Homo sapiens: one gene and its partner. The protein of the gene in region 1 purifies or fractionates together with the protein of each later gene. This does not show direct contact. Each region holds a gene or a part of one and is shown on either strand. Other genes may lie near its edges. The genes, in order: ERICH5 and NMT2.

Region 1 (3,096 bases):
TACCTGCTTTTATTTGCCTCTCCCAAGTTGTTCCCAGGGCCCTTCTTACACATTCTTAGGAAAGCAGTTCCCACAACAGACTATGGTGATGCACGCACATCCTGCCTTCCCACACTAGACAGTGAGCCCCTTGAGGACAGAGACTATCTCTTCCTCAGTCTGCATCTCAGCACCTAGCATATGTTTAGGCATGCCAAAAAATGCTGAGTTAATAAATGAAAGAATTGGCCAGACATGGTGGCTCATGCCTGTAATCCCGGCACTTTGGGAGGCCGAGGCGGGTGGATCATGAGGTCAGGAGCTGGAGACCAGCCTGGCCAATGTGGTGAAACCCCGTCTCTACTAAAAATACAAAAACTAGCCGGGCATGGTGGTGTGCGCCTGTAGTCCCAGCTACTCAGGAGGCTGAGGCGGGAGAATCGCTTGAACGCAGAAGGTGGAGGTTGCAGTGAGCCGAGATCACTTCACTGCACTCCAGCCTGGGCAACAGAGCAAGACTCCATCTCAAAAAATAAATAAATTAATTAAATAAAATAAATAAATGAAAGAATTAAACAAAAACAGATGGATGATTATAATGAATGCTTCACTTAAGTATACTGAACTGTGAAGCTAAAATTTACCAAAATGTAAATCATACCCCAGAAGAAAATATTTTTTTAAATTATAACACCAATAAAGAACACTGTAAACATCATTTGTTTTATGCTGGTAAAATACAGTTAAAATTTTAAAACACCATATGCTAAGACATAGTACATTTTCTCTGGTCTTCTCATACAGATTTTAAAACTGCAGAAGAACAAGAGCAGACTGACAGTCATTTTCTTTTTCCTTTTTTCTTTCTTTTTTTTTTTTTTTCTGGAGAACAAGGTCTCACTATGTTGCCCAGGCAGGTCATGAACTGCTGGGCTCAAGCTATCCTCCCACCTCTGCCTCCTGAAGTGCTGGGATTACAGGTGTGAGCCACTGCACCCTGTCCTGACAGTCATTTTCTAAGATAAGCTTCACAAAGATGAAAATAACATTCTAAGATCCATTATGTATATATCATTTCATTGGAAGGTGAATTCCTCCAGTAATCATCTATTCACCTTTACTTTGGATCCTGATTTCATACATGGGGCCTGATGAAGTGTCAACTTGGAAAAATTCAGAAAGTTTCACATGTTGCCTTCAATGTTAGACACTATTTAAACACTAGGTTAAAATTTTGGACAGAGATGATGTTTCGGAAAAGTTTTGCTGACAAACTGAGCATTAATAGAATGCCTCTTTCCCAGGCACAGAAGCCTTTTTGGTTTGGTCAAACGAACTTCAACCACCTGAAAGTGACTTCAGGGACTGTGTGTCAGTCACCCCATCCCACTCCCCAGAGCTGGTCTCCTATGGAGCACATCTAAACATCCAGGTTTGCCAGCATAACTTTTACCTTCAATGCGTTGGTCCTCTTCATTAGTATGGATGTTCCTGATCATTTCCACATATGCTCCTGCCTCTACATTTCGTGCTGGATGCTCCATGCTTCCAACTATTCCTTCAGGTTGAATCTGCTCCATGTTTCCTGGACCTTCAGGAGTTTTATGGAATGGATCATTCATAACAGGCTTTTCCACAAGCTGACTTCTGTCCAATACTTCTGGTGTTACATTCTCTTTGGGAATTCTTTCTAGAAGCTGGGGCTGCTCCTCTTTTCCCAATGTTGCCTGAAGTTGCTGCTCTTCAGCTGTTTCCACAAACTGACTTCCTTCCAATATTTCTGGAGATTCATTCTCTTTGGAAATTGTTTCTAGAAGCGGGGCCTGCTCATCCTTTCCCACTGTGCCCTGAGGTTGTAGCTCTCCAGCTATTTGCAGAGTCAGAACGTTCTCAGTTGTTCCTAGAGGCTTCATCTCTGCAGCAGTTTGTGGATTCTCAGTGACCTCCACTGCTCTGAGAGAGTCCTTCTCTACTGCTGCCTGCAAAGGCTGACCCTTGGCTTCTGGTCCTAAAGGCTGAGCTTCAGCATTTCCTTTTAGAGACTCGGCCTCTGTCCCTGCTCCTGCATCTTTCTTCTTTCCTTCTGCTGCTGGGGCATCCTCTTTGCCACCTGGTTGAGGCGGCCCAGATTCCTCCAGTCCCTCTCCAGGCTGAGTCTTTTCTGTGGACCCTGATTGGTCTGTGGCATCCCTTCCAGGGGCTACGTCCTTGGCCAGGGGCTGTTCTTGGAGGGGTTTAACACCATTAGCTGTAGGCTCTGCTGAAACCTTGAGCTTTTGTAAGGGAGGACGGCTTTCCCTTTGTACATTGCCATCAACAGTAGATTCTCTTCCCAGTGCATGTGGCTTTGGTTGGGCAAAGCAGGACTCACTTTCTTCTGCAGTTGAAAAATGCTCATTTGAAGTTACTTTGGTTATTCATTTGAAAAAGAAAAAGAAAAGAGAAAACACAAATTATTGTTTAGTTTTATCTTGAAAAGTGAATTGACATCACAAAGTAGATTTAACAGTTCAAGACAGTTCCAAATATATCTGAGTACAGAAAGGCCATACCATGACCCTAACACTCTCCCAGTCAAATCCCTTTATTGTCTTCAGCTCAAACATTTAATCTTAAGCGCTGAAGTCCTCCAAAACCACAGTTTTCTCCTGTTTGCTCCTTGTGCATCTTTTCATGGCTCCTGTCCCAGATTCTAACTGAGCTTACTCTGTTTCTCTCTTCTTTTCCTTGTCTCACACTTTCTCCTCTTGAGACTTAGAAGGTTTCCTTTTTAAAAAATTTTTTTTCCATTTTTGTTTTGGCGGGGAGGGCAATAGAAGATTCCCAAACTTAGAAGGTTTCATGATGCGAGGTCCTTGGGCTGCTAGAGAGGTCTTACTTTCCTTCTAACACAGGAAAGCCCCCAGCAAATGGAAAAAGGACTGTGGCAGAGAAGCCCTAATAGGTAAAGGCTAAGATGTCTGGGAAGGGAAGTAGCAGAGACAGTTCAGCCTGAGTTTCATGTCATTTGGGGGGCACAGTGGGAAAAGAAATCAACAGAAAGCAGAGAAACATGCATTTTACTTCTGGCCATTGTTCCAACTGTATGAGCTTGGAAACTTAGCTCCCAATGATCTT
Region 2 (3,825 bases), on another chromosome or scaffold:
CCCTTGCCCCAGAGAACGAAAAGCAGTAAGTCACACTTCTTTCTCGGCAGTCCAATTTGGGGCCCCTTATATTGTGCTGTGTAGAGGCCAAGAAGGGCCTGGAGTTGGGACTTCAGCCTAAGTGCCCATTGGTGATTTGCACAAAGTTCTTAGGAAGCAGAATGTCATGCCTGTAATCCCAGCACTTTGGGAGGATGAGGCGTGTGGATCATGAGGTCAGGAGTTCGAGACCAGCCTGACCAACATGGTGAAACCCCATCTCTACTAAAGATATGAAAACTTAGCCAGGTGTGGTGGCGCACACCTGTAATCCCAGCTACTTGGGAGGCTGAGGCTGGAGAATCGCTTGAACCCCAGAGGCGGAGGTTGCAGTGAGCCAAGATTGTGTCACTGCACTCCAGCCTGGGCGACAGGATGAGACTCAAAAAAAAAAAAAAAAAAAAAAAAAAGAAAGAAAGATAGAAGCAGAATGTCCTAAAAGGAAAGCTTCCCTCAGGCTGACAAATGAGTCAATTCTTTAGACTAAGGGAACAGTGATAAAAGCAGATTCATTGTTTTTGCAGAAATAAAAGCTTTAAGGATTAGAGGGCTGCCTTCTCCAACTAAAAGATACTGTGTACTATCTCACACTGTCTTAGCACACAGAAAGAATTATATCAGGCCTAAGTAAGGTTGGGTAGAGTCTGGAAGCTGTTTGGAAGAGTTCGCAAGCTTGTGAAAGGTCTTACTACTGCACCAAAATATACACATGTGAACAACTGGAGAATTTTGCAGCTATCAAAAATAAGGGATACAATGGATGACATTCATTTCATCATCACTGGCAAAGCTTCCAATACAAGAAATTAGCCAGTATTGTTCGGGTTGTTGTAATTAGCTGTGGTGGCCTTGCTGACTTTTAGAATATGATGTGTTTGAATCGTGCGGCTGAAGAGGCTGGACCACACACATGCCACTGCTAGTATTTCTTTCAGCAGAAAAGGAAATTCCAGAAGGATGTATGCTTTGGTTTTCAAAGGCTTCCGAGTCATTAGACCTTTCTTCAGCCAGCAAGAAACTAAAGGGGTTAATCTACAGTGATTCCCTACTGCTCTATATTAGCAGCTCAGTATTGGAGATGAATTCAACCTTCAGGTTTAATAAGGATTTTAGATTCTTCTAAGAATTTCTCATATCCATCTCATACGCTGAATTACTGCAGGCACCTGCAGAACCTGATTAGGTTCCCCACCCCATTTTCATCATCTGCTTTCAGAAAACTACTTCTTCACATTCATATTGCTGGTAAAATTACTGTTTCCTCTCTTGCTGTTAAAATGACCAGAGAATCACCAACTGTTGGGGAAGAGTGGGATGATCTTTCCATTGTCCCTCACACCCAATCAATTGTAAAGACTGATAAAAAACAAAACAAAACAAAACAAAACAAAAAAACCCCGCTCACAACAAAACCCACCATGGCACCATGTCTAGATGGCTTATAAGCAACTTCTAACAACTTTCAAGGAACAAGTAATCCCTATTATTACATACACTGTTCCAGAGAAAAGAGAGGACAAGCTCTTCAGCTCATTCTAACTTTGGTATCAAGACAGGACAAGGACAGGGTAAGAAGGGGAAATTAATGGCCAACCTCAGTAGTGAGTATAGAAGATCCTAAGTAAAATATTAGCAAACTAGGGCTGGGCATGGTGGCTCATGCCTGTAATCTCAGCACTTGGGGAGGCCAAAGTGGGTGGATTTTCTGAGCTCAGAAGTTCGAGACCAGCCTGGCCAACGTGGTGAAACCCCGTCTCTACTAAAATACAAAACATTAGCAGGGTGTGGTGGCATGCGCCTGTAGTTCCAGCTACACAGGAGGCTGAGCACAAGAATTGCTTGAACCCAAGAGGCGGAGGTTGCAGTGAGCAGAGATTGCACCATTGTACTCCAGCCTGGGTGACAGAGCAAGACACTGTCTCCAAAAAAAATTAAAAAAAAAAATTGGGAAACTAAATCTAAAAACAGAGGTAGTCTCACACAAATGGAAACCAAAAGAATGTGTCACTAGCAGACATACCCTGAGACTGGCTAAAGGAATTTCTTCAAATAGAAAGGAAATAATAAAAGAAGGAATCTTGAAGCATCAGGAAGGAGGGAAGAATAATAGAGTAGAAATTTGGGCTACATATAATAAATTATGCTTCTCCTCAAGCATCATTATTAATCAGTGTTACAAATCATACTTGATGATTAAAACAAAAATCATAATACTGTCTGATATTTAAGACAACAATATTTAAAAATGAAAAAGGTAAAGTGACCTAAATAAAAGTAAGGTGACTCAAAGTAATAAATGTTGTTACCAATCGACTATAAGTCACATATATATATTGTAATACTCACATCAACCATCATAAAAACTATACAAATACACCCAAAGGTACTATAAATAAAACAGTATCCTAAAATATATTCAAGTAATCCACAGCAAGGCAAGAAAAAAGAAACAGAGGAACAAGAACCAGAAGAAACATAAAGAAACCAAATAATCAAATGGTAGACTTAAGCTCTACCATACCAATAATCACCTTTTATGTAAGTGGTCTAAATACACCAATCAAAAGAAACATCAGTAGTGTGGGTAAAGAAACATGACCCAGCTATAGGCTGTTTCCAAGAAACTCACTTCAAATTCAATAACATCAATAGTTTGAAAGTAAAAGGATGGAAAAAGTCCAAACAATTTTTAAAAGCAGGTCTGGTCACAGTAATATACAATAAAGTATACTCCAGAGCAAGGAAAATTATTAGAAAGAGAGGTATTACATTATGATAAAAAGATCAATCCACTAGGGAGACACAAAGACCCTAATATACATGTGAGTATCAAACAAGAGGCCCAGAAGAAATCAAGAAAAACTGACAGTGTTGGAAGGAGAAATAGACAAATCCACAATTACAGCTGGGGACTTCCATGCCCCTCTCATCAAGTGATAGAACTGCTAGACAGAAAATCAGCATGGAAACAGAAGAGCTGAATAACTCAATTAATCAACATGATGCAATTGCCATACAAAGAACACTCCACACAACCGTAGTGGTATACACGTTTCATGCACCCATGGAATATCCATCAAGACAGTCCATATCCCGAGTAATAAAACAAACCTCAAGAGCCTTAAAATAATCAAAACCATACAGTGTGTGTTCTTTAACCATAATTGAATCAAACTAGAAATCTGTAATAGGGAGACAACAGAAAATCTCTAAACACAGCAAAATTGAACAGCACAATTCTAAGTAGGGGTGGGCTAAAGAGGAAGCCTCAAACGAAACCAAAAAATACATAGACGTGAATGACAACGAAGATACAACATACCAAAATACGTCAGAAATAGCTAAAGCAGTGCAGAGAGGGAAACTGATAGAACTAAATGCTTACTAGTAACAGGGAAAGGTCTCAAGTCAGTAAGTTCTTCCCTCAAGGAACTAGAAAAGAAGAGCAAAATAAACCCAAAGCAAGCAGACAGAAGGAAACAATAAACACGAGGGTAGAAATCAATGACACTGAAAACAGGAAGACAACAGGGAATATCCAACAAAAGTCTGGTTCTCTGGGAAACAAATCAATAAAATGATACAAGTCTACCAATATGGACAAAAACAAAGAAAGAGAAGACACGAATCACCAATATCTGGTATGAAAGAAGAGATATCAGTACAGATCCCACAGCCACTAAAAGGATAACAAGGGAATAAAATGAACATTAATTACACTCATACATTCAACAATTTAGAAGAAATGGATGAACTCCTCAAAAACTATTAAAACTCAACCAAGAT

The links.
Region 2: the proteins of ERICH5 (region 1) and NMT2 purify together in Homo sapiens (affinity purification with mass spectrometry; one large-scale study listed by BioGRID and IntAct). This does not show direct contact.

The regions. Positions count from the first base shown.
Region 1 is NC_000008.11:98,088,366-98,091,461, reverse strand, and holds part of ERICH5 (glutamate-rich protein 5), read right to left. Parts: intron 2,387-3,096; coding exon 1,433-2,386; intron 1-1,432.
Region 2 is NC_000010.11:15,113,041-15,116,865, forward strand, and holds part of NMT2 (glycylpeptide N-tetradecanoyltransferase 2), read right to left. Parts: intron 1-3,825.